2 linked regions of the Homo sapiens genome follow. The protein of the gene in region 2 interacts with the protein of the main gene of each other region in a biochemical or structural test. Each region holds a gene or a part of one and is shown on either strand. Other genes may lie near its edges. The genes, in order: PAWR and FBXO45.

Region 1 (15,782 bases), on a different chromosome or scaffold from region 2:
TGTCTTTTTAAGTTAATTTCATCTGTTTCAGTTCTGTATTTCAAACTGTATATTATTATGTTTATTTATCCTATTCTCTTAGTCCCCCTAGAGTTTTGTTTTGTTTGAGTTTTTCTGAGCCAGGGTCTCACTTTGTCACCCAGGCTGTAGTGCAGTTGAGCAGTCACGGCTCACTGCAGGCTCGACCTCCTGGGCTCAATTGATTCTCCCACCTTAGCTTCTCAAAGTGGTAGCATTAGAGGTGTGAGCTATGGCACCTGGCCCCACAGAATTTATTATGAAGAGCCTGAAAACAAAGTTTCAGCTGCCACAGAATTGTAATCCACAATATAAATTCTCTCCTATCTGTTCACTTCAGCAAAACCTAACAAAATATTAATTTTCAGAATACAACTGCCCTATTTCTTCAACTACTTAAAATAAATGAGACTATCATTGAAAAATACACTGTGACCCACAAAATTTTGCTGGACAAAATCTCCAAAAACTATCACAGAATAAACATTTTACTAGTCAACTGACATGCTAAGATTTGAACTTGCTGGAGCTCTTTTTACCTTTGAAGTGTGTGATTTTGCTGCTTTTAGAATTTAAATATTCCTACAATGTCGTTCAGCCATGGTGCCCTGTGTATTTTTACATAGCCTAAGGAGAATGTAACAGGTGGCTGAGGCTCAATTCTATACATGTAGGTATATGGCTATAACACATTTGCCTAAGATCTAAACAGAAAGTTGACTCAGCAGTTAACCAAATATGTTCAAAATCAATTGCCAGTCAAGGATGCCTATAGGTCTAACATGTAAGATTTGTAATCAATGGGAAAAATGTTTGCACTTGATAGTAGTTTGATAAGATGGCAAACACAATGCTTTAAAAGTTTGAGTTGCTAATTATCAAATACATTTATAAACACAAGTATATGCTTTCACTTAAAGATATGTAAAAATTAAAAATGAGTGAAAGTAAAGTTCTAATTACGCATTAACTATTTGAGGTGTTTCTGTAGTCTAGACTTGTCTAAATTCTGGAAAAGAGGCAAAGCAGACAGAGCATTTTGCACTAAGTATGTGACATTACATAAATGTTTAAAGTACTTTGAATTTCCAAGTAGCTCAACCTGTCTGTTAAAATATGCACAGTTTTAAATTGGAAGAAAAAAATGAAAATGTTTAACAACCTCATAGGAAATTAACCTATACAGTAACTACAATTTCTGATTTGGGCATTTTTATAACATTTTCACAAACATCATTTTATTTAATTCATGTAACAATCCTGTTAGATAACCAGCATTCATTTCATTTGACGGATCAGTAAACTAGTACAGGGTATTTAAGTTAGTTCTTCCCAAACTTTAGTGTGTACCAAAATCACTCAAGTTAAAATGCAGACTCTCAGATAACATCCCTAACCCAGACTGGGGTGGATTCCAGAAATCTGATTTTAAATAAATGGCAAAAGTGATACTGGTAGAGATGGTCCCCCCAGAAACATCTTTTAGGACACTGATTCTAGTACTGTAACTAAAGTGGTAAGCAGTGGAAACTCCTTTTTTTTTTTTTTTTAACTCTGAATCAATGTTCCCAAATGTTTAGATGACAGAGCTTTGCAGATCTCCATGAAAGATATGTAAAAGTTTTATTAAGGTGAAAGTATTACACTCAGTTAAATTGTTAGGTTTTTGCAAAAGTAATCCAACTATTAGGCTGGTGCCATTACTTTCAATGGCAAAAACTGTGATTACTTTTGCACAAACCTAATAAATACCTATTATACTAAACTCCACTGCAAACAAATGGTAGTAGGTGCCCAAGTTTTAAGAAACTTAAAATTGAGGAGATCCTACCATAATTTCATTTTCTCTGTAAAGTGGGAAAGGCTGATATTAAATTATTTTAAGTTAATGGCTTCTCATAATTTGAATACCATATCACTTTACTGAAAGGAAAGCTAAAATTTAGGGACCAGAGGTTCTAAGAACATAATGAAAAATAAAGATGAAAATATAAAAGCACTTAAGAGCACACCGTGTGAATACTAAAAAACCACTGAACTGTACACTTTAAAAGGGTAAATTTTATTGTATGTGAATTATATCTCAATTTTTAAAAAAGGAAAAAAAGCACAGAGAAAATGTCAAACCCTAATATTTGCCAATAATTTTATACTTATAAAACATTATATCAACCTTGCTATTAAATGGCATAATTATTTTCTGGCACACATCATAGGTGCTAAAAAAAAAATGCAGAAATAATAAATAGCATAGATAGGCTTGGTACGGTAGCTCCCACCTGTAATCCAAGCACTTTGGGAGGCTGAGGCGGGTAGATCACTTGAGGCTGGAAGTTTGAGAGCAGCCTGGCCAACATGGCGAAACACCATCTCTACTAAAAATACAAAAATTAGCCAGGCATGGTGGTGCACACCTGCAGTCCCAGCTACTTGGGAGACTGACGCAGGAGAATTGCTTGAACCCGGGAGGTGGAGGCTGCAGTGAGCTGAGATCACACCACATGCCACTGTACTCCAGCCTGGGCAACAGAGCAAGACTCCACCTCAAAAAAAAAAGAAAGAAAGAAAAAAACAAAGAAAATAGTATAAACAGGCCACTAGCTTGATAATGATTTTAAATAAGAATTTTAATGCCAGTGTTTATATATTCATTTGTTCTCAAAATTTTCCATTAAAGTCTCACTTCATCTATGTTCTATAAATAGGGCTATTTTTAAATTCCATAGTCATATACTAACAATTTAACACTAAAATATTCTTTGTATTTCTTAAACTAGGTATACAGTATGTAATACACTGAAGTGTAGTAAGATGGTTTATTACGCACAAGACTGTGAGTGCAAACTATCTCTAATCTACTTCTCACTACATGTATGACCTGAAGCAAGTAACATACCTTCTCTTCCCCATTTTCCCATAGGGCTGTGGTGAGAATTAAATGCACTAATGTATGTCAAGTGCTTAGAACAGTGCCTGGCACTTAATAAGCACACCATAAATGTCATCTACTTTAATTATGTAATTATTATTTTTATGAGAAATGACATCCCAGCTCAGACAACTCAGTACAAATCCTGATAATATTAAAATTTCAATTTACTTTACCAGTGAGCTCAAACATTTAGGAAAGCTGGGCTAATAGCCCAGGTTTTACACTAAACAGTCTCAGTGTTTACACTATATCTACCCCATTCACGAATCAAATTTTCTCCAACTCTGAGTCATTATTAGTTTCTCTCCTGACTCATCACACAGAAAGGTAGACAGTCTGGAGCATAATGGGAATAACAAAAGGCATTTCTTAATCCACCTGGATTTATAAAGTTTACTAAGTGGAACTTGTCCTATATATAATGTTCAATAAACATACTAAATAATTATGACCTAACCTGTGTTCACTTAAAAGTGCTTTCTATATGTTAAATGCTCCTTTATCTTCCCTTTCACCAACACGAGTTCAAACTATGGAGTAGGTGTCATGACCCCATCTTGATAGAAAAACAATATATCACTTAGGTAAAATCAAAGATTCACATTTTCTGACCACTAGCCAAAAATAAATTTACGTTTTGCCGAGAGCCTGGTGTTCAAAATTTTGCCACTCTATAGGTTAGAGGGTCAGAGGCAATCTCTGAGTCCACAAATTTGACCTGAAATTCTATTCAATTCCATACCTTTACTGTTTTCCTCATTCAGATGTTTAAATTACTTAAGATAATCTTTAATAAAAAGTTATGTAAAAATCTAGGGAAATATGCTGAATAATGAAAAGTAGGTTAATTTTTAAAAACTCCCCTTTCCCTAGATATATACATACACACAAAATACACAAAAATGTTTAAAATATTGCTCTATCAGTTACTTTCTATGTGATCTTGAATCATTTAAGCTCTAAGTCTTCATTTTCTCCTCTGGAAATAGTGATAAACAGTGTAACTACCACATGAGATTGCTGTGAACTTCAGTACATAAAGCACTTTAGCCAACCACTAAAGCTAAACCACTTTAGCCAACCACTATTTTAAAACAGAAGTTTTAAATACTGTATATGTTAACTTTTATACTTAAACCAAAACTTCAGTGCCACCTCTACCTATTCAAAGATTACATTTTCTATGGCACCCATCTCCATTAACCCATTCACACAACCCTACTCAATGGCAGTAACTTCACAAACCCCCTGGAAACAAGTATGTAACTGTCTAGGAAGCTTTCTTCAACTATCACTCCTCCTCCCTGGGTTAGGTACCCTGCTCAGGCACTAAGCTATACTTACTACTCTACTTTTCACATTTCCTTATATTACCTGAGAGCACCTCGTGGGCAAGGCTTATGTCCTATTCATTTCTATACCCAGACTGCAGTCCAACAGTTGTTATCACTGACTCACATTTGAATCAAATGGGGAACTTATAAAAATATTAATGCCTGGGATCCATCCCAGACCCATTCAATATTACAGGGTGGGGTGAAGGGACAAAGAGGGCACGGAATTGAATTAGCATGAGCAAACATTTTTTTAAAGATCCTAACATGCTATCAATGTGCTGCTCAAGTTAAGAACCACTGCATGTCGGTACTTAATATACTATACAAACAATTATGTATACATGTACATATGTGAGAACATATGTAAAAATATACAAGTACTGAAAAGTTTAAGACTCAGGTCAAGATTCTCATCCTCAATAGCTTCTCCCAGCCCAATCATCTCCCCCTTTTAAACACACACTATTTCCAATAAATAGTTACATGCTTCATTAAGATGGCTTTTAAACTGTTAACTCAGTACTTAAATTTTTTCATGTAATTATGCCTTATCCTTCTTCCTAGATTATAGCCTTGCTCCTTGAGAATATACACTGCCGTGTTCTTATTTTCTCCACTGCTTAAGGATAGTGTCTTTAACAGGTATGTAATACACATTTGACTGATCTGATAAACACACACAAAAATTACTGGCAAGAAGTATGCCACGTCCAAATTACCCAGTTCAGGTGAATTACTACCAAAAAATAGAAAATGTAAAAATTTAGAAAAAAGGATATTTTTCTTAAAACTCTTAGTAAATTTTATCTCATTAAAGAAGCTCTGGATAGATCGACTTCAGCCATCACATGCAGTAACCACCCAGTTTCCTACCTCCCAAATAGCTAGTTTCGGTTTTTGACCTGGTTCCTTGCCTATAACTATCTTCTAGTCAATTCTGGTATCTTTAGCTGCTGTCAGATACCTTTATAACAGTATTATATATACACTCTATAACTAGTAAAGTGAGGTAATGAAAGTCACAATAAATGTATCACACAGATGTTTCATAAGTACTTCCTTGAAGGAACTTAATGTTTATCCACCATTAAAACCAGATCTCTACATATGAACTACATGTTAATCTACTAATACAGACTTGGTTGGGAATCATGTCTGAAAATAAGAGTCTTACTCGACATTAGATAAAATAAAGTCTACTTTTGAATATAAAGAGATTGGTCATTTTCATCTTTTTACTTATTTTCATACCCGAAAAATTTGCAAAATATGTATGACTTTTTAAAACAGGGGTGCTAAATTAAATATTACACAAGAAACTCCACAGCAACTGGTATTCTCAATGTTGAAACTACCAGGAGAAATGGCACAATTCTAAAAAAGCAACAATATAAACACATGAAAATGGCTCAGCTTTAAAGTTTTGCATCATATATTTTACCACTATTAAAATAATCTGAAATACATAAGTTGTTTTGAAAAATAAGAAAATATGAGGAGGAGGCGCTCAAGAAGTATGTCTGTTAATTAGATACTGTAGTGAAGCATTACTGTTTTGTTGGGTCCTGCAGCTTGAAACGGACAGAGACATAGTTACCACTAAAAGAAAGCAGTCCTCAATTCCCTATTCAATAAAAAGGTTCAAACTCTACAGACAAAAAAAAAGGTACCCTTGGTTTGTTTGTTTTCAGGGAAGATTAAATTTAGGAGTTGCCAACACCCAAACGAAAAACATTCCAGAGTATTAGACTCCATTGTAGTGGGAAGTCATCTACATTCTCAGCACTATGTTCTCTTACTCAAAGCAGGGGTATTAACAAAAGATGTTTCTTAGGATCTCACAAGATACACTCTACTTACTTCCCCCAGTAAACATTACCCTTGTTTAAAAAAAAAAAAAGTACTTGAAAAATAATTTTAGCACATGCAGCCAGAAAAAAAGTGAAGTTTAACATCTGCCAAGATATTTCCCAAAATAAGACCGCTGTCAGATGAACAATGAGGAAAAGATTGAAAATGACAAATTCTTTTATTTGGATCATCAGCTACTTTTAAAAATCAAGTTGAGGAATGTAGCTTTTCCAAAGCCTTGTCTTCAATTTCCCCTTAATCTTCATATTTTTAACTAAAAAAAAAAAAAAAAAAAACACCTAGAAATTTGATTACCACTCTTACGAATTCCTTCTAAAGCAATTTAATGAATAACAGATCTTTTGTGCAAGTAGCAAACCGCAGAGGACAGTTTTGCTGGCTGATAAAAATCTCTGAAACGCTCATATAAATACGTCCTACAAAGACACACTATGATTTAACAGGTATGGAAATCATAATACTAAAAATTTAGGTATATTTAATATACACCCTAACTTATTGCAAATGCTTCTACTTAAACCACAATTAAAGTTGAGTAAAATTAGAAAGCCAGGAGAAGAAAAAGTGAAAGCTAAACAGTCAATGAGAAAAAGATGCAACTATTTTAGGTGAAACAAGGTAGTTGAACCACTTCCTCAAATCCATGAGCTACTATCAAAGTAATCAAAACTTGTTTGAGATTGTTTTGTCTTGTTTCTGGTAGAGGGAGGTGTGATTATACACTTAGTAAAAATGTTTTACCAGTCACTCTAATGGAAGATGCTGCTACCTGTAACGTTTCGAAAATGCTCCAAACTGCAAACAACCCAAAACAAACAAAAACCCTACCACATGTTTTTCAGACACAGTACTCAAAAAGAGATCGTCTTAGCGAACAGAATTGTGGGTTACTAAATCATCCCTATTGTCCTAAGTATCACTCAGAAAAACACTGTGTGTTTAGGAGCACAACTTATAAACAGCTGATTTATATATAAAATAGTGCACGTATTCATTTGGATATACTCATCTTGAGCTCACTGTAAGATAAAGCTGTCTTGGATATTGCTAAGGCAACATTTTCTTTACAGATGTTATTAAACATTGGTAAGAAAGGAGAAATAAACTGGTAACTTCACATGGGCACGTGAGACCCTAGAGAATGTCGTCACCATTAATCAATTTTTCTAACTGATCAAGCATAAACAGCCAAGTCCAGGTGGCCAAGTCAGCCAAGTCCAGGTGGGCAAGTCCTGGAGCCATAAGTTGTCTTTCTACCACGGTAAAAAAGGATCCTGGATCTGAGACCTGGCCAGGAAGCCTGAAAAGCACGTGTCCTACTCTGAGTTTGGGGAACTTCCCAGGAAGCATTTGTTCAGAGTAAAACTCCATCACCCCCTGCCTGCCTAACTCGGTGAAGGGACAAGTACGAGCCAGGGGAGGTAAACTCTGCGCCCCGGGTAGCTCCCAGGAGGAAGACACCGGGAGGCAGCTGCCCGCCCCGGCCCGGTCCGGCTGCGGCCCCCGCCCGGCTCACCTCTGCGGCAGGGATGTTGACCACGCCGGTGGAGCGCCGCTTCTCCCGCAGCTTCCTCTTCTCGATCTGCCCCTTGCCTTTCCTGGCACTGGGGCCCGAGCTCTTGCCCTTCTCTGGGACGCCGTCCGGCTCCTCCTCGTCACGCTGGGGCGGCGGTGCAGCCGAGGCAGAGGCGGCTGGGGGCTCGTCCTCCGACCGCCGCGGGCCGGGGGCCGCCCGCGTCAGCATGGCGGAGCCGACCGCGCAGTTCACGCCCCCGGGACCGGGGACGGCAGGTGCGGCCGGCGCGCCGCCCGGGAGGTTGTTGTTGAGCTCGTTGGCAGCGGCGGCCGCCGGGGTGCCCAGAGCCCCCGCGGGGGGCTTCCCAGCGGCGTCGCTGCTGCCCCCTCCCGGGGGGGCCGGGCCCGGGGGGTTCTGCTTGGCGCGCATCTTCTCGCGTTTCGCCTTCCACTCCTCCAGGAAGTCTGTGGTGCTGCCGCCGAGGCCGCTGCTGGTCCGGTAGCCACCGGTCGCCATATTCCCAAAGGGGCCGGTCGGGCTCTCACCTCAGGCCGCCCACCAGGGCTCCGGCCGCTGCCTCCTCTTCCTTCCTGCGGCCCCGAGGATGCCAGGAGACGACCTCCAGGAGAGGGACGGCCGCCGCTCCCACAGCAGCCGGCGGGGCTGAGGTGAAAGACAAAAGGGGGCGGGTAAGGGAAGCGTAAGATCCCCGCCCGACCCAAGGGTCTGCCCCCGGGCTGCGCCCCTTGGAGTCCTCGAGCGCGCCCACCAGTCACTACCGGCCAGCAGCCGCCGGGTCCCCACCCTGCAAAGTTTCTCCCACGCACCTACAGTACGGACCCCGACGATCGCCGCCCCTAGAAGGGAGGAGAGAGGACTGACCCCACCCCCAAGTCGGCCCGCCCGCCCCATCCCCACCAAGGTCCGCGCCGGCGGCGGTCGAGATACTAGGGCTAGACCCGCCACCTGTCGGCTCGTCGTATCGCCTGCTCCGCGCTCTAGCCACCGCCGGTCCGAGGTCCCCGTCAGCTACAACCCCACTCCCAAGGCGAGGCGCGGAGCTCCTAGCCGGTTCGCAGAGGAGGCGGGGACCCAGCTGTCCCGCCGAGCGTGGAAAGGACCGGGTGTGAGCGAGCGCCTTACCTTGGAGGAGCTTGTAGGGGACGAGGCGTAGGGCTGGGATCCGGCTCCCAGGTGTGCCGAAGCTGGCGCGCGCTCTTCCGCCGCGCGGAAAGTGCCGCGGCAAACTCGCGGTGCGGAGCTCCAGGCAATCCCAGGACAGGAGGGAGGGAGAAGAAGGAGGGAGGGAGGGAGGGAGGGAGCCAGGGGCGGGAAGGGAGCCGAGCGGCGCCGAAGCACGAGCGGAAAAGGCCGAGGCGGCGCGCGAGGGGCGCGGCGCGCGGTGGGAAGGGTCGTGGCCGCTGACGCCCCGCCCCCGGCGCTCAGGTGCGCGGCGTCGCGTCCGGCCCGCCGCTGCAGCCTGCCCTGCGCCAGCCGTCCTCTGCCCCGCTCCCGCCGCAGACCACAGCGCGCCCGCCGCGCTCCGCCCGCGGCCTGCGAGTTAGACGGCACATTCCTGGGCTAGCAGCTTCGCGGCGTCCGGCCTCCCGGCGCCTCCGACTCCGGGGCGGGAACGGCACTCCACGCCCTTCTTGCTTGTCTTCTCCGCCTCTCTCTTCTCCCACCACTCTTCCTTTTAAGTACAAGACCGTATTATTTGAGAGAAAGTCTCGAACGCTGCTGGCTAAGGGGAAAAGTGCGATAACTTGTGATGATTCAGGGAATGACTAGACAGGATGGGAAAATACCCACGTGTCTCTTTTCCTAGTCGCTGCTCCCTTTTCAGATGTACTAGGGCAGCGGGCAGGAGAATAGAAAGACCTGAGACAAACCCAGCACCCTCCTTCTAAGAAAACTGCGGTGCCCTGGTGAAAAGGGTTGGCTAAGAGGAAGGACTTACTAGTATCTTAGGGTTGCGGGAGAAAAAACTCAGTTCGACAGTTTATTGTATTGGCGATTCCAGTCTTGGAGTTTTCCCCTTAACCCTGTCTCTGCCTCTCCTCTTTACAGAGAATGAATTTAGCAGCAAAGCTCCCTACCAAAGTACTAACGCTGCACTGATGCTAATTTGAGATGAGCTGGGGCAGTGATTGTCTCTATTTTTTCATTATTAACATGCCAGAGGCTTATCCTCTGATGCAAGTCATCTGAAATTTCTGGATCAGAGCGGGGTGGGCTGTCACTGACGCACCTAAGACTGACCTTTCTATATCCAAGTAATGTCAGGGCACATCATTGTGGGAGGCTACAAATGCCAGGTCTCCATTTTGTAAAAAAGTAGGAGAGCCCTAAGTCACGCTCTTACCTAACATAAACCTTTCTTCCTACTTAATATTCCTGTTTTGCCCAGGTAGCACATGATGAGTGAGCAATCAGTGTTTGCCTGCCACAGAACTGGGAACAGAAGAAAGTGATTCACATGCTCTATATTTCTCAGGGAAAGACAGTTTTGGTCTTTGGTCTGGCTGTTGTGGGAAACGTATGGCGAGAGCTCTGGAAAAATCCTTAGAAAATTAAAAGCTTTTGTTGGGAATAGGTCTAAAAGGCTGAGCGGCTGTTTACCTAAGCTAGTACCAACCCCAGTGTGCCACCTGAAGTTTCTCAATTACATATTCATTAGTTTGTTTTCTGAGTTTTAAGGAGAGTAAGGGAGGCTGGGACATTAAACGTATTCACATTCATATGCTTTGTAACTTATCAGAGGACTTTTCTCCTGGAAGGGCTGCAGGATATAGTGGAAAGAGGGTATAGTCAGCTAGCTGAGAGATCTTGGGCATGTTTACATTATCTGGTACTCAGCTTTCTGTACTATAAAATCAGCAAAAATTACATTTTTTTTTTTTTTGAGGCGGAGTCTCGCTCTGTCGCCAGGCTGGAGTGCAGTGGCGGGATCTCAGCTCACTGCAACCTCCGCCTCCTGAGTTCAAGCAATTCTCCTGCTCTCAGCCTCCCAATTACATTATATTTAAGCTGTCTTAAGAACTGACACTGCACATAAAATGTGCTTGATTCGAGGAAGGCACTCAGTAAACATAGTCCCTTCTAGGGGCTTAAAGTCCTTGGTCTCTAAGAAGTGTATGGGAGAAGAGGAAATTATAACAGATGGGGTATTGAATATACAATATCAGCCTAAAAACGATAGACTTTGAATGAACTAGGATAACACCCCACATAAATTTATCACTGCATGGCTTAGACCAGTTCTCTTAGTGTTAATAGGTTCTGAGTCAGGAATTTTGGCTGCTACTGACTTGTGTGGCTTTGGGCAAGTTGCTTAACTTTTGTGCCTCTGTTTACTTACATATAAAATGGGGATAATAATACTTCCTGCATCGTGAGAGTGTTGTGAAAGTGCCTGCAGTCCTTAGATAAAAGGTGGTATGTGAGTACCAGAGTAGGTATTATTAGTCTATAAAGTGCCCTAGGAACCATGGATGAAAGAGATTATTGAGGTACAAAGCTCTGTGTTTTGTTATTATTATCATTTATTATACCTTTTGTCTTTACCATTCTCAATATTCCCGAAGATATATTTCACAGCCAGACTGCTTCCAACATTGCACCGAGGTATTTAGCTGAGTCAGTCCTAAATTGCAAGATGTTTGCATATCATCAATCTTTATGTATAGCGTTCTGATGAAATAATCCTCAAAGACTTGGAGCTTGGTTTCTCAACCTCAGCACTGTTACATTTGGGGCTGGATAATTCTTTGCTGTCCTGCCCATTGTAGGTTGTTTAGCAGCATCGTTGGCTTCTACCTATTAGATACCAATAAGAAACCCCCACCTGTATTGTGACATTGCCACATGGTCCCTGGGATAAAATTCTTCCCCGGTTGAGCACCTCTGAGTTAGCCTAAAATAACCAATTTTTAGCGACTCACTTGCCCTTAATAATAAAATGAAATATGATGATAATGCTGACAAAAACAGATTCATTTAAATATGTCAGAGTGAAACCTAGATGTTAGTCTTAATGATTTTGAGGAAGTGTATTATTATATGTATGGATAGCTAGTGTATTGGGAAGTAGCCATTTTGCCTTCAATGCAGGTATTTCTGGAACATATGCAATTCATCCTCTAACATCAAAATATTATATGTGCATAGGATAAAAAAATTACATACTTTAGTTCTACAAGGATTATAACAAAAAACAGCAATCCCCTCTCTACCTTATCCATTCTGAAAACCCTACCCAAAACTTTGAACTTTTTAACTGTTTCCATTAATAGAGATCTTCATATTTATTTTTTATGTGCATATCTGCTATTGTACATCTTGATTTTTCCATTTTTAGATATAGAAGAGGATTTAGCTCTAATACACTAATAACACATATACTTTTCTTTTCTTTTTCTTTTTTTTTTCTTTTTTTTTGAGATGGAGTCTCGCTCTGTCTCCCAGGCTGGAGTGCAGTGGCGCGATCTCGGCTCACTGCAAGCTCCGCCTCCCGGGTTCACGCCATTCTCCTGCCTCAGCCTCCTGAGTAGCTGGGACTACAGGTGGCTGCCACCACGCCCGGCTAATTTTTTTTTTTTTTTTTTTTTTTTTTTGCATTTTTAGTAGAGACGGGGTTTCACTGTGTTAGCCAGGATGATCTCGATCTCCTGACCTCGTGATCCACCCGCCTCGGCCTCCCAAAGTTCTGGGATTACAGGCATGAGCCACCATGCCCGGCCACACATATACTTTTCATACTCCTACACGCCCGTAGTATTATGACTATACAAATACTGTTCATAGCTGAGTCATGTGGTGTATATGATTGCATTTCTTTTTTTTTACAACTGTTTTTCCTTGTTGCACAACTATACCTTTTGTCTTTACCATTTTTCTGCAGTTAAAACTTGCCTCTTTTTTTTTCTTTAATCATCGGCTTATTTTTTTATATACCAGTCACAAGTATATACTCAAATTTTCCTCCTCTCAATGACGTTAATCACATTGGGTAAGCTATCAGTTCTATTCTCTTTTTGGAAACATCTGTTCTGGAGCCCTCCATCCCCTGCTTTAATATGGATTGATTTTGTTTGTTTGTTTGGAGACGGAGTCTCGCTCTGTTGGTGAGGCTGTAGTGCAGTGGCGCAGTCTTGGCTCACTGCAACCTCCGCCTCCTGGGTTCAAGCAATTCTCCTGCATCAGCCTCCAGAGTAGCTGGGAATACAGGCACATGCCACCACGCCCAGCTAATTTTTTGTATTTTAGTAGAGACGGGGGTTTCACCATGTTGCCCAGACTGGTCTCGAACTTCTGAGCTCAGGCAACCAGCCTGCTTTGGCCTCCCAAAGTGCTGGGATTACAGGTGTGAGCCACCGCACCTGGCCTAATCTGGACTGATTTTAAGGCTCGTTGCTTGTGGTCATCCTGGGATTATGCTCCTCTAACACCTTGAGAATCATTTTCTCTGTAGACTTCTTGTTTCCTGAATTGCATACTTTTCTCTTTTTGTTTCTCCCCTTCATTTTAGCAGAGTATATCCTCAGTATATTCTGAAGATAGTATAACTCATTCTTAGAGACCTTGCATATTGGAAAATGTTTTAAATTTATCTTCATACTTGATTAATAGTTTGGTGGAGCATAGAACTCTAGGTTAGAAAGCATTTTCCTTCATAATTTTGAAGGCATTGCTTTATTATCATCTAGTTTCCAGAGTTGCTGTTTAGAAGACCAGTGGCATTCTGATTGCATTGTATTTTCTGTCTCAAAATTTTTGGATCTTCTTACTTAGATCCTCTGAAATATCTTGAAGATATGCTCTGATTTGGTCTTTTATCATTATTATGTTATGCAGTCAGTGGACCCTTTTAATCAGCTATCTGCCTTCCAGTTAGGAAATTTTCTTATCCTCTTTCTTTTTCTTTGACATGGAGTCTCGCTCTGTCGCCCAGGTCAGAGTGCAGTGGCCTGATCTAGGCTCACAGCAACCTTCACCTTTCGGGTTCAAGCGATTCTCCTGCCTCAGCCTCCTGAGTAGCTGGGATTACAGGCACACACGCCTGGTTAATTTTTGTATTTTTAGTAGAGACGGGGCTTCACCATGTTGGTCAGGTTGGTCTTGAACTCCTGACCTCATGATCCACCTGCCTCAGCCTCCCAAAATGCTGGGATTAGAGGCGTGAGCCACCGTGCCTGGCCTATTCTCTTTCTTTTATAAGACTTTCCTTCTACTTTCTCTGTTCCTGCCTTCTGGAATTCCTGTTAAGTAGGTGTTGGAATGCTAGAAGTTCTCTAACAAATTTTTTCTCTTTTCTCTTTTATTTTTCATTTCCTTGGCATGTTATTCTACTTTTAGTGAAATTTCCTTCACTTTGTATGCCAGTTCTTCTATAGAATTTTCTGTTTCGGACACTATTTCTAATATCTCTTTCTTGTTCTCTAAATATTTTTTTCTGTAGCATCTTGGTCTTATGATACATATTGAGCATTTTGTCCTCTAAGCAAATTGCCTACATTTTTTGTTTGTTTTAATCTTCATCTTTCATGTTAGAGCACTTCCTCATCAGTTTATTCATATTTAAGACTGAAGCACTGCAAAGCTGATTGAAAGCTCTTATGTGAAAAGGAAGACCTTGTTGGACTGATGGGCCTCATTTAGGGAGCCGGTGTTTGGCCGCAGACATTTTCTGGAGGCATGTGTCAAATTCAGCATCTATGGAGCTTCTCTTTTGGCCCAATAATTTTCCTTGAGTAAAACTATTTCTGCTTGTGTTGTCAGTTGCCAATTTTTTCAGGTGCCAAGTAGGGAAAGAAGACTGGAGGAGTCTCATTACTCAATACGCAGGTTTTCACTTAATCCCTATACTTAGTATATCTGACGTACCCAATTTCAGTGCGTTTGTAATTCAACATCTGTACAATGTGAAAACTTCCAGTCCTCTGCCAGGATCAGGAGAGATAGTCTCCTTGCTACTGAGCCCTGCAGAAGGGATTTGAGAATCTAACTGTTCCTTGTGTAGATTTTCAACTAATCCTTCTGTTTTCATCCCCATCCTTCACTCTGTTTCAGAGGTATATGCTGCTGCCTCCAATTCTGAACCTTTCTTCAGGGATCTGCAGGACAAAAAAAGATTACTTCTTATTGGCTTTGTCTCTTGCAGGTTGTTAGAATTTACCTTACTCTGCTCTGCTAAAGCCTGTCTGCTTTCTATCTTTCATCTTCCAAAATTTTGTTCTTACTGTTCATCCTCTTTGTTGTTACTGGTTTATCATTTTACTTTGGTTTTAGTGAAGTTACTTGAGGAAGTAAAGATAAACACGTGTGTTCAGCCTGTTATATTTAATAGGAAGTCCAATTCATCTGTTTTGCAGATTTCTAGATACTTTGCAATCTACTCCATAAGTCCAGATCAGCAGAGACGTCTACATCTTATTTCTGTCCTCAGTGATTTACATCATAAGCCCATATTGATTGACACTATAAGAAAGAGCTCTAAAAATTTGTTTTATTTTCTGTAGGCTTTTTTTGAAGGTGTGGCCCATTATATTACATATATTCCTATTATCAAAAACCTAGAAAACATTTCTGACATCCATATTAAGAATAGATGTGGTTCTCTTTTGGAACTTTTTTTAACCATATAGTAAAACTATTTTTCATATAGCTAGTGAATATTCTGTTTTCAATTGCCTGTAGGTAATCTTAGACCAGATTTTTGGCCTATCCAGGGAAGACCTAGATTTTATGGTGCCTGAAGCTTACATAATTTGGTGGACTTTCTATAAGAAAAATAATCCGTAAGAAAATAAATATTTAGAATAAGTGAGAAATTTTTTTAAATTACAAATTTTAACAAATTGAAAAATGCCATAAATATCACAAAAATCCAGGAAAAAACCCTATTCATTTACTCTCTGACATATTTCTATGCCATTTTGTATGCATTTTATTATTGATTTTATTACTTATTGATGCATAAAGTACATGTCTTTACATGCAGATATATCCACTATTTGTAGTACAAGTATATAGGTTTATGCATCACAAACACAAGAACTCTTATAAATTGTACATCAAAAAAAATCTACTTCAAAAAGGAAAATAA
Region 2 (15,822 bases):
ATTAAATAAGAAGCAAACAGTTCGAGGGAGGATCCAAAAAAGAAATCAGGACAACAGACTGGTAAAGCTGTCTCTGGCGTCTCTTTCCACTAAACAAAGCGGCAAATACAGAACATTTACACCTATTTTTCTTTTATAAAATTTAAATGCTTTGGGCTGGGCACGGTGGCTCATGCCTGTAATCCCAGCACTTTGGGAGGCCGAGGCACACGGATCACCTGAGGCAGGGGTTGCAATGAGCCGAGAGCACATCAACTGCTCTCCAGCCTGGGTGACAGAGCAAGACTTTGTCTCAAAAAAAAAAAAAAAAAAAAAAAAAAAAAAAAAAAAAAAAAAAAAATTAAAATGCTTTGAACTTTAACATATCAGCCAACTTGTTTAGCAACATCATCAACTGATTCTCTTTTAAGCTTTTGGATCACAGGAGCCGTGTATTCAGCCAGTTCAGGAATAGCATGCCTGTCTCTCATAATTCTTGGCAAACAACTGCATTATCAAACAAATGTCAGCAGGAGGGTGGGGTGGGGGGCGGTAGAGGCAATTGGGAAATAAGACCCTAGTGAATTACTGTTCTCTGTCCACTTTCCATTCTAAACATGGGGAATGTGGATTCTATTATTAAAGCCATGGAATTTATAGGTAAATTCCATCACCACCTCTGGCTATTAAGGCACCCCAATTTTTCTTTCTAACCAATGTGTAAAAAATGTCTTTAAATGTAAGCAATCACAGGTGGTTAATGTTTAACTTTTTATTAAGAAACTAAGGCAAAACAACAGAATTCCAAAAAATAAAGATACAGAATTCTAATTTAAATTCTAAACAAATATAAAAATCAGAGTTTACCAGTATTTTTGAGTAGAGGGGAGTGGCTAAATGCATTCACAGTAATTATTTCTTCCTTACCAGCCTCAAGTTTGCAACCCTTTCCTTCCTGCTTCACTGGGACTAGAACAGAATTTCTCATTCATCTTTTGCTACTATAATTTTTGCTTCTATAGTCTAAAACTTCAGAGGAGCTTTTGTCTTTCTCCGCAGTTCTTTCTCTGTTCCTTCAGCAAATATGTGAGCACCTGCCTATTGGGCTTACATGTTGTGGCACAAAGATGAGTCCGTTAGAGATCCTGTCCCAGTTTAGGGGCGATATGACACCAATAAATAATCAATAAATAATTTTAAACAAGGTATAAATAAATACAGCATGAGTCAACTATAGATATATAAAACTAGGGAAATTTCAAGGAGAGATTACATTCAGCTAGAGAAACTGAGGAATGTTTTTGAGGACAGCATTTGGGCTGGGTGTGGGCTGTTCCTAATAAAGGCTTCCAAGTGGTCCTGATTATCTACCACAGTCCCAATTGTGGAACTGTGGTGGTCTCAATTTCTGGAAAGTAATCTTTTCAATGCTAACCTTTAAAACTCCTTAAATTTCTGGCCTGGCACGGTGGCTCGCGCCTGTAACCCCAGCACTTTGGGAGGCGAGGTGGGTGGTGTTGGCCAGGAGTTCAAGACCAGCCTGGCCAACATGGCATAAACCCCCTCTACTAAAAATACAAAGATTAGGCCCGGGAACAGTGGCTCATGCCTGTAATCCCAGCACTTTGGGAGGCTGAGGTGGGTGGATCACAAGGTCAGGAGTTCGAGACCAGCCTGGCCAACATGGTGAAACCCCGTCTCTATTAAAAATACAAAAATTAGCCAGGCATGGTGGCAGGTGCCTGTAATCCCAGCTACTCGGGAGACTGAGGCAGGAGAATCACTTGAACCCGGGAGGCAAAGGTTGCAGTGAACTGAGATCACACCACCGCACTCCAGCCTGGGCAACAGAGCAAGACTCCGTCTAAAAGAAAAAAGAAAAAAATTAGCCAGGTGTGGTGGCACATGCTACTCGGGAGGCTGAGGCACGAGAATTGCTTGAACCTGGGTGGCAAAGGTTGCAGTGAGTCAAGATCGTGCACTCCAGCCTGCGTGACTCTGTCTCCAAAAAAGAAACACACACACCACTCCCTAAGTTTCTATCTCTTCAAATTACTCACTTCTTCAAAATAACAAAAAAAAATTAATATTAATATGACAATCTACATAGTTTGGGGATTTAAAAGTTAAAGCTGGGTATAGTGGCATACACCTGTAATCCCAGCTACTTGGGAGGCTGAGGCAGGAAGACTGCTTGAGCCCAGGAGTTCAAGACCTGCCTAGGCAGTAGAGTGAAACCCTGTCTCCAAAAACAAACAAAAGTTCATTATACAGTAGTAGTTTCTTTATGGTTTAGGGCTCTGCTATTTTTGAAACTCTTTCTCCAGTCAAATAATTCTAAAAGGCAGAAAATGCCTAATCACTGAACAATGATTTTAAATATTAACTGGGTAAATCTTACTTTCTTTTGGTGTCTTATTGAATCCATATCTACACTTTATGTGAATGAGGGAGATGAAATAAATGGCTTAACATTTAAGTCAAATAATGAGAAAATAATGGCAACTATGAAATGACATTAACCACAAATTCCTTGTATGAAAAGATTTAATGAATTATGAGCCATTGATCATTACAAACTTTAAGCCTTAATATTTCTTCTTTCCTATGTAAAACCAGGTAATTAAAACAGCCTGTCTCAGTATGACAGAAGACCATAGTAGGGATAATAGTAACGTCTGCTTCCACATCTGCATGCTTCGTTAACCAACCAAAGAAAGTGCTCCAGGTTTCCCAAGTCAACAAAGTATACTCAGTTACACTTTCCCTGATCATACTATGAATTGAAACAGAACACTCCTTTGACTTTTAATAGCACTTTTCATCCACGGCACAAGCACTTTCCCATTATTTTCTCCTTTACCCTCAATATCCTTGTGAGGTAGTGAAGGGAGGGAGCAAGGATTTTTTTTTTTCTATTTTGCAGATGAGAAAACTCAAGGTGAATTTTACAACAGTGGTTCTCAACCTTGGCAGCATATTGAAATGACCAGAAAGTTTTTAAAAATCCTTATGACCAGCTCATATTCCAGACCAACATCAGAATCTTGGCATACGGAACCCAAGCATCGATGTGTCTTCCAACATTCCAAAGTGACTACAAAGTGTATACAGCCAACACTGAGAACCACTGGTTTGAATGATTTACACTCAATCTTCAGGCGCAACTGTCTTCTACCGAAATGCTCTCCTCAGCACCAATGACAAAGATATTCCATCTCCTTGAGCACTGCAGCAGTTTAAGATTTTGTAGAGCTACTACTGGGTTTTAGTGACAAATTTACGTAAATGAAGGCCCTCATGACCCAGATGCTCATGCTGCTCACTTCAATTGCATATGATTTGCGAATGGGACATTCGGGAATTTAAATCTTTGAGATAAGAATGGCTTGTTGTTAAATATTGAGGCAATTATTTCATTCTAGGTCCAATACGCAATAACCATGTGTTTCGGTTTTCCACTCAGCACCTTCAAAACTGTTGCAAATGAATGTTTACTAACAAGACAAAAGAGACAATTATAAACCAAACTCTCAACAAAATTCGGAATGGCCACATCACAACCTGAAAAAGAAACAAGTACTTAAAGGACTTGATCACTTCCTAACAAGTCCATCTTCAACCTGAACCACTTCTCTTGTTTAATCAAATTTTAAACTTTGCCGAACTGAGTTGTTCTACACCAAGAAAAATCAATTTCTATACCACCTACATTCTCTAATACATTTAACATATAATTTCACTCAATACAAGGAGGTTTCTTCTTAACCTGGACATCGAAAAGAATCTTTAACAGATTTCATCTTTTCAAGCAATGTATCAAATACACAATAAATACTTGTAAACTTTTCAGGTGGCAACAATAAATCTTTGTTCTATGGCTGAAATCCCTTGCTTCACAGGAGTATTGACAATCTTAACTCCCAAGGAGCAATCCAAGAATCCCGGCCAGCTGCTGGGTGTCCCTAATCAGATTTAAAACAAAACATACATACAGCAAGAACTCAGAAGTACAAAGATTTCGCTCGCTTTTGTCAATTCTTATGTATCTAAAACCATACAATTTATACTTTCATACAGAAAGATGTCTGTTTCTTTTCTAACAAAAGAAAAACTCTCAGCTCATGTGGGTTGGATTATTAATTCAAAAGCATTTTAGTGATGAGAAACAAGATTTGTAAGTCAAAATAGGAGTTAATGTTAAACTCTTCTACAACGAAACCTTCAAATATTGCCAACCTGAAGTTTTCAGCACAAGGTGTTGTATTTCAAGTCCCATGGGGGCAATTATCTATAATGAGATTAAGAATATTCTTAACCTGTTTCAGCTGGGTAAGTAAACGTTTTCTTTATAGCCCCAATAACGAGTTTGAGGCTTAGATTAGTTGCATGATGTAAACAATATGAAATTAAAATTTTTTTGATAATATCTACAGCATTTATAAGGTTACAAAATAAAAGGACCATTAATCAATTCTTTTTTTCCTAGGCTCTATGACTAATAGCTTTCATATTTGAGGCCTACAAGAGCAAATGGCAATGTTCTGTGTTATGAGACACTTTCTTAGAAGGCCAAAAATAAAACTGGATACCAAAAGATACACATTACTATTATGTTGAGATCATCCTTACTGATATATGTATAATTAGAAATAGATTTGCCTTCCTTCAATCTTTAGCCAGGAGACTGAGAGATCTTTACTATGATTTTGAGAGTAAAAACAAAAACAAACCAGACTCTAACAGCTATGGGAACTGTAAGCCAAAAATAATACAAAATGAGTCAATACAACACATCTCCTCTTAAAATCCTCTTCTTTGTAGTTAACCCAGTTGTCCCCAAATGTTATTCCAATTTTGTAACCATGTAGTGGTTTTTAAGAAATTAGAACTAGAACAAAACAACCTGTTTGTCCTTTCTTTTTTACAGTTTTTTTTTTTTACACACATATTATATACAACTTTTAAAATAGCTGCACAATTTTATATCTCACTTTTAGAGAAGTGCAGTCCAGGCAGACCATGCTTCTCAATATATTAAAAATATTAAATAAAACCCAACCAGTTTCATACTTTTCTAATAGTCAAGCTGGCTGGAAAAAAAAGGACTGGAGAAAGAACAGGCAGTTGTAAAATGGGATCAGTCTTCACAAACACACTACTTAAAAATCTTGCTATTTCCTTATCCCTTTGACAGCATCTCTACAATCTCACCTTTAAAGCTGGAAATAACACATTGCTAACTTAGAGACAACATCGGGTGCAACATGCATATGTCAACTGCCCACTCAACCAACTGCAACCCTGAGGATTTTTCTGGCCCAGTAGAAAGAGGAAACACGAAGATAATCTCTGCTGTAGAGCTGCTTCTCCAGTTTACGACTTCATGTGTTTTCAGGATGTTTCTTGGACATGCATGTGTGACAGTCACTTCATGGTTCTACTTCCCATAAGCAGATCTCTCCTCCATTCTGTCTGTCATCACAAGAAAGCCACTGTCATCCGTCCAAAGGTTTTCCAAGGTAAACCAAAGTCACTTCTGTGTTGCCATATACAGCAGAAACTGCTGGGTATAAGCAGACCTTTGGAAGTCCTCTAAAAGCAACCCCCAGGAACTCATATCCACGTTCAAAAGCTAAAGTCTTATCTTCCATGTCCAAGATGACTCGAATTCTTTCTCCTATCTGCAAACAGATATCAAAAGGTTAGAAGAAAATCTGCCAAGGGTGTAGCTAGAAGAAACAAGACACAAATCAAGAAGTTGAAAATATTAAGAATATTATCCTGAAAGCTATCTAGAAAAATCAGAAGGGAAGCTTTCTAGTCAGGAAGAAACATCTATAAAAAAAGGACATACATCTGGCCGGGCATAGTGGCTCATGCCTATAATCCCAGCACTTTGGGAGGCTGAGGCGGGCGGATTGCTTGAGCCCAGGAGTTCAAGACCAGCCTGGGCAACATGGTGAAAACCCATCTCTATTAAAAATACAAAAATTAGCTGGGTGTGGTGGCGCAAAGCTGGTATCGCACCACTGCCCACTGCACTCCAGCCTAGGTAACACATCACAAATGCTTACTTTGATAGTTTTGTTTTTAAGACTCACATGGAATCTACACTTAATTACTTACAATTTAAATGTTCCACCTGAACACTACCTAGATTGATTTTATTTACTCTTTGTTTAAAGGTTTTTCTTAAGGTTAACACTAAAATCTATAACTTGGCATATTTTACCAAAAAGAGCAATCTAAATCAGCTTCTCAAATTACTATACTATACATACAACGGAACTTTTTTTTTTTTTTTTTTTGAGACGGAGTCTTGCTCTGTCGCCCAGGCTGGAGTGCAGTGGTGCAATCTCAGCTCACTGCAAGCTCCGCCTCCCGGGTTCATGCCATTCTCCTGCCTCAGCCTCCCCAGTAGCTGGGACTACAGGTGCCCGCCACCACGCCCGGCTAATTTTTTGTATTTTTAGTAGAGACGGGTTTCACCGTGTTAGCCAGGATGGTCTCCATCTCCTGACCTCGTGATCCACCTGCCTCAGCCTCCCAAAGTGCTGGGATTACAGGCATGAGCCATCGCGCCCGGCCGTACAATGGAATATTATTCAGCCATAAACAGAAATGAAATTTTGATATATGCTACAACATAGATAGACCCTGAAAATATTATGCTAAGTGAAATGAGCCAGACACAAAAGGCTAAATGGTATGATTCCACCTATATAAAGTATCTAGAATACTCAAATATATATAGTTGTAGAGCAGAGTTTACCAGGGGTGGGGAGTGAAGGAAATAGGGAATGAACATAATAGAGATTATGTTGGGGTGAGGAAAAAGTTTTGGGTATAGAGAGAGGTGTGTGAATGTATTTAATGCCACTGAATTGTATACTTACAAATGGTTAAAATAATAAATATGTATGTTTCACCACAATTTTAAAAATCACCTTAGTAAGACACACAGCTTTTAAAGTTTACAAAGCAGTTCCACATGTAATGTGGAATCATGAATAATCCAATCTGGCTACAAATTCTAATGTAGAATATAGAATAGGCTTATTAAACAATTTGTGGTTCACAACTCTGAAACACCTGTTTGTTATAAAAAACAGCAGCACTGATTATTAAACGAAACTGGAAGCAGAATATATCCAGTTTTTTCCCATTTGGAAAAGTAAGCAAAAAAAAAAAAAGGATGTTTCATCTTTTTAGTTTGCCTTTATAAAAAGATGTTGCATCTACAAAATTGGAAACAGAAAGTCCTAATGTTTGCAATCAAAATTTAATTCTACCTGATTATAACCCCTACTATTGTCATTTACTTTCCTTCACTGTATTTCCTGTTAACAGTAACTGCCAACATCTGCTTTTTTCCTCCCTTTGCCCACCTCACAGATTAACCCACACCTCATTTTATGGATCTAAGAACCTCCAAATCATCATCACCACCACTCCTACCAACAAAATATTAACAAAGTAGAAATGAAAAGCTAATTTTGTTGGGTATTTGTGTTGTGTCGTATTTGTATTATCCCATTTAATCCTCACACTAATCCTAGGAACTATCCCTATTTTACAGAAGTTGAAACTAAGTAACGATTACTCCTGGTGAAATCTGCAAATCTGCTTCACCTTTGAGCACACAGCACGCACAAAGCCCAGGGTGGAGAAAGCGAAGTCTTACCATCTTTAGGTGCTGGGGTAAAACGTGGGGAGATGGCAGAGCAACTGGAAACTTAGAGGAGGAACTCCAGAAGCAACAGAACCACAGAAAGGATGAACCCCAAAATCTGAGAATTAACTTCCCAAATCCCTGAGTGACCACTATATTACAAAGGCACAGGGTAAACCTCCAGGACTAAAAAAGCAGCAAAGCTGAAAAAACTGAGCAGACATTAGCTGCCACACATCACATGAGACAGAGTTTATAGTTTGAGTATAGGCAAGTTAACTGCCTACTAAAACAAGAAAACCTATACTTTTCAGAGAATAAAGCAGTTTCTAGAAACAAAACATTCAGGAGTTACTACTACATATTATCTACACATCTAGGTTTCAGTTAAAAAAATTACTAGATATGAAAAGAAACAGGAAAGCGTGATTCATATTTAGGGGAAAAAAGCAATCAACAGAAGCTGAATCCAAGTGGTCCTAAGTGTTGGATTTGGTAAAGACTTCAAAGCAGCTGTTATGAATATGTCCAAAGATTTTTTTACAAATATAGTATAAGTAAATAAATAAGGAATCTCGAAAAGGAAATTTACTCTAAAAAAGAACCAGGCCCAGTGTGGTGGCTCACGCCTGTAATCCCAGTACTTTCACTTTGGGAGGCCGAGGCGGGCGGATCACGAGGTCAAGAGATCGAGACCATCCTGGCCAACATGGTGAAACCTCATCTCTACTAAAAATACAAAAATTAGCTGGGCATGGTGGCACACACCTGTAGTCCCAGCTACTCAGGAGGCTGAGGCAGAAGAATCACTTGAACCCGGGAGTCGGTGGCTGCAGTGAGCCCAGATCGTGCCACTGCACTCCAGCCTGACGACAGAGTGAGACTGTCTCAAAAAAAAAAAAAAAAAAAAAAAAAAAAGGAAAAAGAAAAAAAAGGAAATTCTAAAGCTGAAGTGTACAATAAGCAAAATTTACTAGCCCAGTTCAATAGCAGAGGTGAGATGGCAAAAGAAAAAAATTTATAACCTTGAAGACAGAACAGAAATTATCTAATTTAGGTCAAGCCCAGTGGTTCATGCCTATAATCCCAGCACTTTGGGAGACTGAGGCAGGCAGCTGCTTGAGCTCAGGAGTTTGAAACCAGCCTGGGCAAAATGGCAAAACCCTGTCTCTACAAAAAATACAAATATTAGCCAGGCATTGGTGGGGAGCACCTGTAGTCCCAGCTACTCTGGAGGCTGAGGTGGGATGATCACTTGAGCCTGGGAGGCAGAGGTTTCAGTGAGCCAAGATCATCACGCCACTGCACCACTGCACCACTCCAGCCGAGGTGTCAGAGCGAGACCCTATCTCAAAAAAAAAAAGGAAAAGAAATTATCTAATGCAAAGATTAGAGAGAAACAAGGTTGGGGGAAAAAACAAGAACATAGTTTTAGAGGCAGAGATAAGGACAACATCAAGCAATCCAACACTTACATTAAAGGTAAATGAACTAAACACTTAAAAGTCAGAGACCGAAGCTGGGCGCAGTGGCTCACAACCTGTAATCCCAGCAACTGGGAGGCCAAGGCAGGTGGATCACTTGAGGTTGGGAGTTCGAGACCAGCCTGACCAACATGGAGAAACCCCGTCTCGCCAGGCATGGTGGCTCATGCCTGTAATCCGAGCACTTTGGGAGGCTGAGGCAGGCGGATCACGAGGTCAGGAGTTCGAGACCAGCCTGGCCAACGTGGTGAAACCCCGTCTCTACTAAAAATACAAAAATTAGCTGGGTGTGGTGGCGCATGCCTGTAATCCCAGCTACCCAAGAGGCTGAGGTAGGAGAACTGCTTGAACCGGGACCCGGGAGGCAGAGGTTGCGGTGAGCTGAGATCATGCCATTGCACTCCAGCATGGGCAACAAGAGTGAAACTCTGTCTCAAAAGGAGAAAAAAAAAAAAAAGAAACCCCTTCTCTACTAAAAAAATATAAAATTAAATTAGCCGGGCGTGGTTTAGAGGCGCATGCCTCTAATCCCAGCTACTCGGGAGGCTGAGGCAGGAGAATCACTTGAACCTGGGAGGTGGAGGTTGCGGTGAGCCGAGATTGCGCCATTGCACTTCCAGCCTGGGCAACAAGAGTAAAACTCCGTCTCAAAAAAAAAAAGTCAGAGACAGAGACTGGGTTAGATAAAAATCAAGATCCAACTATGTGCTGTGTAGGAGCTCCACTTTAAATACAAAGACAGATTGACAGAGGATTACTAGAGTCAAAGGAAGTCATTTCATAATAAAAGAATAAATCAGGCAGGGAGATAAAACAATTAGAAATGTATATGCACCAGTAGTAACAGAGCTCCAAAATACATGAAGCAAACACTGAGAGAACTAAAAGAAGAAAGACAAATTAGCAAGGATAGATGGAGATTTCAATACTCCTCTTAGTAAATAATAGAAGGGTAGAAAAAAATCAGTAACACTATGTAAGACTTGAACATTATCAATCGACTTTGCCTAATTCTCATTTACAGAATATTCCATTCAGCAAAAGAATATACATTTTTTCAAGCACACATGGGACACTCATCCAGACAGACCACATATTAGAATAAAACAAATCTCAATAAATTTAAAAGGACTAAAACCATAGAGCATGTTCTCTGAAAAACAGACTTAAGGACTTTCACTTACAAAATCATTACAAGGGTGGCGACAGGACTTCGTTTTTAGTGATAAAGTCTACACACCCTTCTCCTTATAGTATCCGCAGAGCCTAAAAGGATAGTGAGGAAACATTCCATGAAAAAAATCCTTCCAGCTTTTATACCTCAGAAAATGGGATGTATTTTTGGTTCTTCTGCTTTAGTATGCCTGACTTGAGGTCATTACTGAGGCTGGAACTTTCACGCCACAGGTGGCTCTGAAATATGCAATCTATAGTTCTTTAAAGACTTCCAATTTCTTATCAGATTATTGTATATTACACCCTGTTAAGTCTGTAGTAATAAATACGGCTTTTACAAATAGGAACTATAATTTTAACTTGAGTCAAATGAGTATGCCTTAAGCCTAAGATGAAAAGAATAAAAAATACAGCAGTTTGCCTGAATTTGCCTGTCTCTGCAGAACTCACTGATGCCTCCAGGGGCTTTGAATCCACAAACATGTGCATGCACAGAGCTGTATTTACTGGGGTAAGGAGCCTAGAAAAAGATTTGGATGTGCCGTGATACAGGAAAGATGACCATCTAGAGCAGGGGTATTCAATCCTTTGGCTTCCCTGGGCCACACTGGAAGAATTGTTTTGGGCCACACATAAAATACACTAACACTAAAGATAGCTAATCAGCTTTAAAAAAAAAAATTGCAAAAAAATCTCATAATGTTTTAAGAAAGTTTATGAATTTGCATTGGGTCACAATCAAAGCCATCTTGGGCTGCATGCAGGCTGTGGGTTGGACAAGCTTGATATAGAGCATGAACTGGCAAACTACAGCCCCTGGACCAAATCTGTCCTGCAGCCCATAAATAAGGTCTATGGAATACAGCCATGTTCGTTCATTTACGTATTATCGATGACTGCTTTTGTACTATAAATAGAGTTGAAACTCGTGATAGATCCTTACCTTGAAAATGACATTAAAAAAAAAAAGTTGTGACAGAGACCATATGGACTGCAAAGACTTAAAGATTTACTACGTGGCCCTTACAAAAAGTTTGCCAACCCCTGATCTGGAGCAAAAATAGGCTGCTTAAAGTTGTATTAGGAAACAAATATTGAGATAGATCATTTATACATTTATTTAAAAATGGTCAAAAAATCTCCTTGAGGCTGGGCATGGTGGCTCACGCCTGTAATCCCAGCACTTTGGGAGGCCAAGGCAGGTGAATCACGAGGTTAGGAGTTCAAGACCAGCCTGGCCAAGATGGTGAAACCCTGTCTCTACTAAAAATACAAAAATTAGCCAGGCATGGTGGTGGGCGCCTGTAATCCCAACTACTGAGGCTGAGGCAGAGAATTGCTTGAACCTGGGAGGTGCAGGTTGCAGTGAGCCGAGTTGGCGCCACTGCACTCTAGCCTGGGCAACGGAGTGAGATTCTGTCTAAAAAAAAAAAAAGAATATTTTTCTGCATAGCCAAAATCAAAATATAACACCCAACAAAATTAACTATAACCCCCTAACATTAAAAAAAAAAAATCTCCTTGAAGTCTGGGTATCTGAAAAAATAAAAAAATAATAAAAATAAAAATTACCAAAAAGACAAAAACTGCTATATAAAAATTTGTAAATTTAAAACAAATTAAGGCGTGATTTGACAAAGGCCCATACTTGAGAAAAACCCCAGTTTCTCACCTGATATTTTGGTGCGTTGTTGCACTGTGGAAAACTGCCATTGACTTCTCCATTATGTAGTAGATTATTGTCCACCAGATTCCAGCCCCAGCTCTGGTCATCACTGCCCAGCAATGCCACATAACCTTGGCACTGCATGGGGGCCCGTTTTGTGGCAATTCCAATCACTGCCACAGTGCCCAGAGGGCCCTCCCACCACACTTCCCATGCATGGCGGCCCTCACTGAAACCAATCTTGGTCCTTGCACCATCAGTGCTCTGAGCAATGGGGTTTCGATGTAAAGTAAAGCCATTCTTCTTAATGTAGACATTCCTGGAGCAGTCATTAGTGCTGAAGGCATGTTGAAAAGCACGTATCTAAAAAGATGAAAAACAGACCAAATAAATAACAATTTTATTTTTCTTAAATATTAAAAATTACCCAAACTTCACGCTGTATGTTTTTAAATAACGAAGTTATATATTTTAAAATAACACAAGTATTTCCAAATAATGGCTGAAGTTTCAGGATGGAATACTAACAGAATAAATAACATTAAAAAATAAATGCCAACCGTTTCATCACTGACCAAAATTTTAAATTGTAGTATTTCCTCAAACAGACTTCTTAAAACATCAAAAGATACAAAAAAGAAAAATCCTTATATCTTACAGATAATACTGAAACGTTTATGGATAAAATAATGGTATCTGGGAATTGCTTTGAAATATCCAGAGATGGAGTGGGAGAGTGTGCAATAGAAACATGAAACTAGACTGGCCATAAATTAATCATTGGCAAAGCTTGGTGATGGGTATAAGGAAGTTCATCAAACTATTTTCTCTACTTTTGTTTATATTTGATATTTTTATACCAAAAAGTTGAGATGTACAGTTTTCATATGGGCAATGCTGTCATCAAAAAGAATTATATTTTACATAAAACAGAAACTTTAATCCTAGCAGCTCTAAAGTTTATGAAAAATTTTAGTAAACACAAACTACCTTAGATCCTCAGCCTACTTGCTGGATATGACTTACACAATAAAAAAATCACCAATCTCATTTTACCAAATCAAATAATCCCTTAGATAGCATCTAGGTTCAACTACTAGAATTTATGAAGAGAAGCTATCAATAAGACAAGTTAGTTGACTCTTCAGTAAATACAAAGGTTTACACTTCCAAAATAAAGAGGGTATGAAAATAGCTCTTCTATACAAACAATAACAATTTCTCATAAACAATTTTAAACTTTTAGTTTGTGTATTTTAAATTTTTTTTAGACAACGTCTCACTCTGTCACCCAGACTGCAGTGCAGTGGCACAATCGTAGCGCACTGCAGCCTTGAACTCCTTGGCTCAAGTGATACTCCCATCTCAGTCTTCCGAGTAGCTGGGGTTACAGGTTCGAGTCACTACGCCTGCCTGGCTAGTATGTTTTTAAAAAATCCCTTCTCTACTTTAGTCAAACTACCCAAAGCAGTGGAAGGCTGGGACCTATGCTTCAGCTAACCTGAGAAAAATCAACTCCAGAGGCATAGAATGTCAGCATTTAGGAAGACCCTTAAAGGTCACCTAGTCCTTCTCAGGGATTTCAACCGCGAGTTAGTGCAAGAGGCCCAAAGAGAGATCAAGGATCCAGTCCCCTCACCACCTGTTCGTTTACCATTCGCTGGCACTCTACCGTTTCAGTGAGCTGCAGAGCGCAGATTTAAAAACAGAGAACTATTTGTTTCCAGTATCCCATGCATTCACAATAAAACTGAGGCATTCCCAATGTTTTTCCTATCTGCTCGTATTATAAAATACTTTAAGGCACTTATAAGACCAAAACGTAAGATTCAATGAAGGGGCCGGGCGCGGTGGCTCACCCCTGCAATCCCAGCACTTTGGGAAGGCAAGGTGGGCAAATCGCCTGAACTCGGAGTTCAAGACTAGCCTGGGCAACATGGCGAAACCCCAACTCTAGTAAAAATACAAAAAATTAGCTGGGCGTGGCAGTGCACGCTTGTAATCCCAGCTACTTGGGAGGCTGAGGCAGAAGGAATGCTTGAGCCCAGGAGGCAGAGGATGCAGTGAGCCAAAATCACACCACTGCACTCCAGCCTGGGTGACAAAGTGAGACCCTGTCTCAAAAAAAAAAAAAGAAACAAAGAAAAGAAAGGAAAAGAAGATTAAATGGGGAAGGAACATGTCCCCAAAATAGCAAATACTGTCTAAATAACTCAAGAGAATAATATCAATAATTCACTATAAAATATTTAATTAATATTTCCCTATGCCTACTCCCCAATTCTTATAAATTCCAATTTCACATTGACACTATTGACAACCTCTTCCTTAAACTTCCTTTTCTTTTTTTTTTTTTTTGAGACAGAGTCTCACTCTGTCACCCAAGCTGGAGTGCAGTGGCTCAATCTCAGCTCACTGCAACCTCTGCCTCCTGGGTTCAAGCGATTCTCCTGTCTCAGCCTCCCCCGAGTAGCTGGGATTACAGACGTGCACCACCACACCCGGCTAATTTTTGAATTTTGAATAGAGACAGGGTTTCACCATGTTGGCCAGGCTGGTCTCAAACTCCTGACCTCAGGTGATCCGCCTGCCTTGGCCTCCGCAAGTGCTGGGATTACAGGCGTGAGCCACCACGCCCGGCCCTCTCTTCCTCAAACTTCTATGACATCTTCCTATTTCCCTGAACTGATCCTGTATCATTTCCTTTTTTGGTGACCACCCTTCCTCTGCCCCAACCAAATTCTCCAAACTCAGTCCTCAACTCTCTATCTGAATTATTTCCAAACCTGTCTTTCTAAAACAGCACCTTTACTACATATCTCATCCCAGTTCTATAACCTCTGGTAGTTCCATACTTAGTAGCATCACCAACTGCAAATTCTTCTGCCTGGCTTTCACAGCCCTCCAAATCTGATTCTTCCTATTTCCCTTTCTACCTTGATGATGTTCTTCTTGCTGAAAGTATTATATGTGCTTTCTTCTCCCACACATTCTCTAAGATCACCTCTATTAAGCTATTCTTAACCAGGGCCACCCAATTCCCTTGATGTCTCTCTCTGCCGGGTGCTTGCCCACCACTTTCTGTGCCACGTAACAATTTAGCAGCTCTTATTTTCTAACACACTTTTAACCACTGAGTCTAGTACAAAATAACTTGCAAAAAAAATCTAATCTAATCTAAATTGATCACACCTCAGTAGGAAATAGAGGACAGAAGAACATGTCAAGCAACACGATGATAATGAAATCCGCAAAATCGAGCTGAGAGTAAACCACCTTGTTTCCTCAACAAATAAGGTGGGAGGTTGGGGAGATGGTGAGTGAATATGTAGACTAAAATAGCCTTAAGAGACATATCAACCTTTGCCATGGGACCCTTATATAGATCTTGATTATATAAAATATAACTTTAAAATGCAACATTTAACATTTATGAGACAACTGGCAATTTGAACACTGCATTTTTGATATTAAGGAATTAATGTACATTTATATTTAGATGTGATAACCATATTGTGATTACATTAAGTGTCTTTACTTTTTAGAAACAGATACTGGAAACTTCATATGAAATGGGAAAATAGGCCGGGCATGGTGGCTCACACCTATAATCCCAGCACTTCAGGAGGCCGAGGCAGGCGGATCACGAGGTCAAGAAATCGAGACCGTCCTGGCCAACATGGTGAAAGCCTGTCTCTACTAAAAATACAAAAATTAGCTGGACGTAGTGGCAGGCTCCTGTAATCCAAGCTACTTGGGAGGCTGAGGCAGAATCACTTGAACCCAGGAAGCAGAGGTTGCAGTGAGCTGAAATTGTGCCACTGCGCTCCAGCCTGGGCAAC

Evidence for each region.
Region 1: the proteins of FBXO45 (region 2) and PAWR form a complex in vitro, tested with the Homo sapiens proteins (one study listed by BioGRID).

Annotation. Positions count from the first base shown.
Region 1 is NC_000012.12:79,682,054-79,697,835, forward strand, and holds the start of PAWR (PRKC apoptosis WT1 regulator protein), read right to left. Parts: upstream 8,912-15,782; 5' UTR 8,819-8,911; intron 8,529-8,818; exon of another isoform or gene 8,503-8,528; intron 8,485-8,502; exon of another isoform or gene 8,339-8,484; 5' UTR 8,192-8,338; coding exon 7,676-8,191; intron 1-7,675. UniProt on the Homo sapiens protein: Pro-apoptotic protein capable of selectively inducing apoptosis in cancer cells, sensitizing the cells to diverse apoptotic stimuli and causing regression of tumors in animal models.
Region 2 is NC_000003.12:196,573,974-196,589,795, reverse strand, and holds the end of FBXO45 (F-box/SPRY domain-containing protein 1), read right to left. Parts: intron 12,344-15,822; coding exon 11,987-12,343; intron 5,664-11,986; coding exon 5,478-5,663; 3' UTR 737-5,477; downstream 1-736. UniProt on the Homo sapiens protein: Component of E3 ubiquitin ligase complex consisting of FBXO45, MYCBP2 and SKP1. Functions in substrate recognition but also plays an important role in assembly of the complex.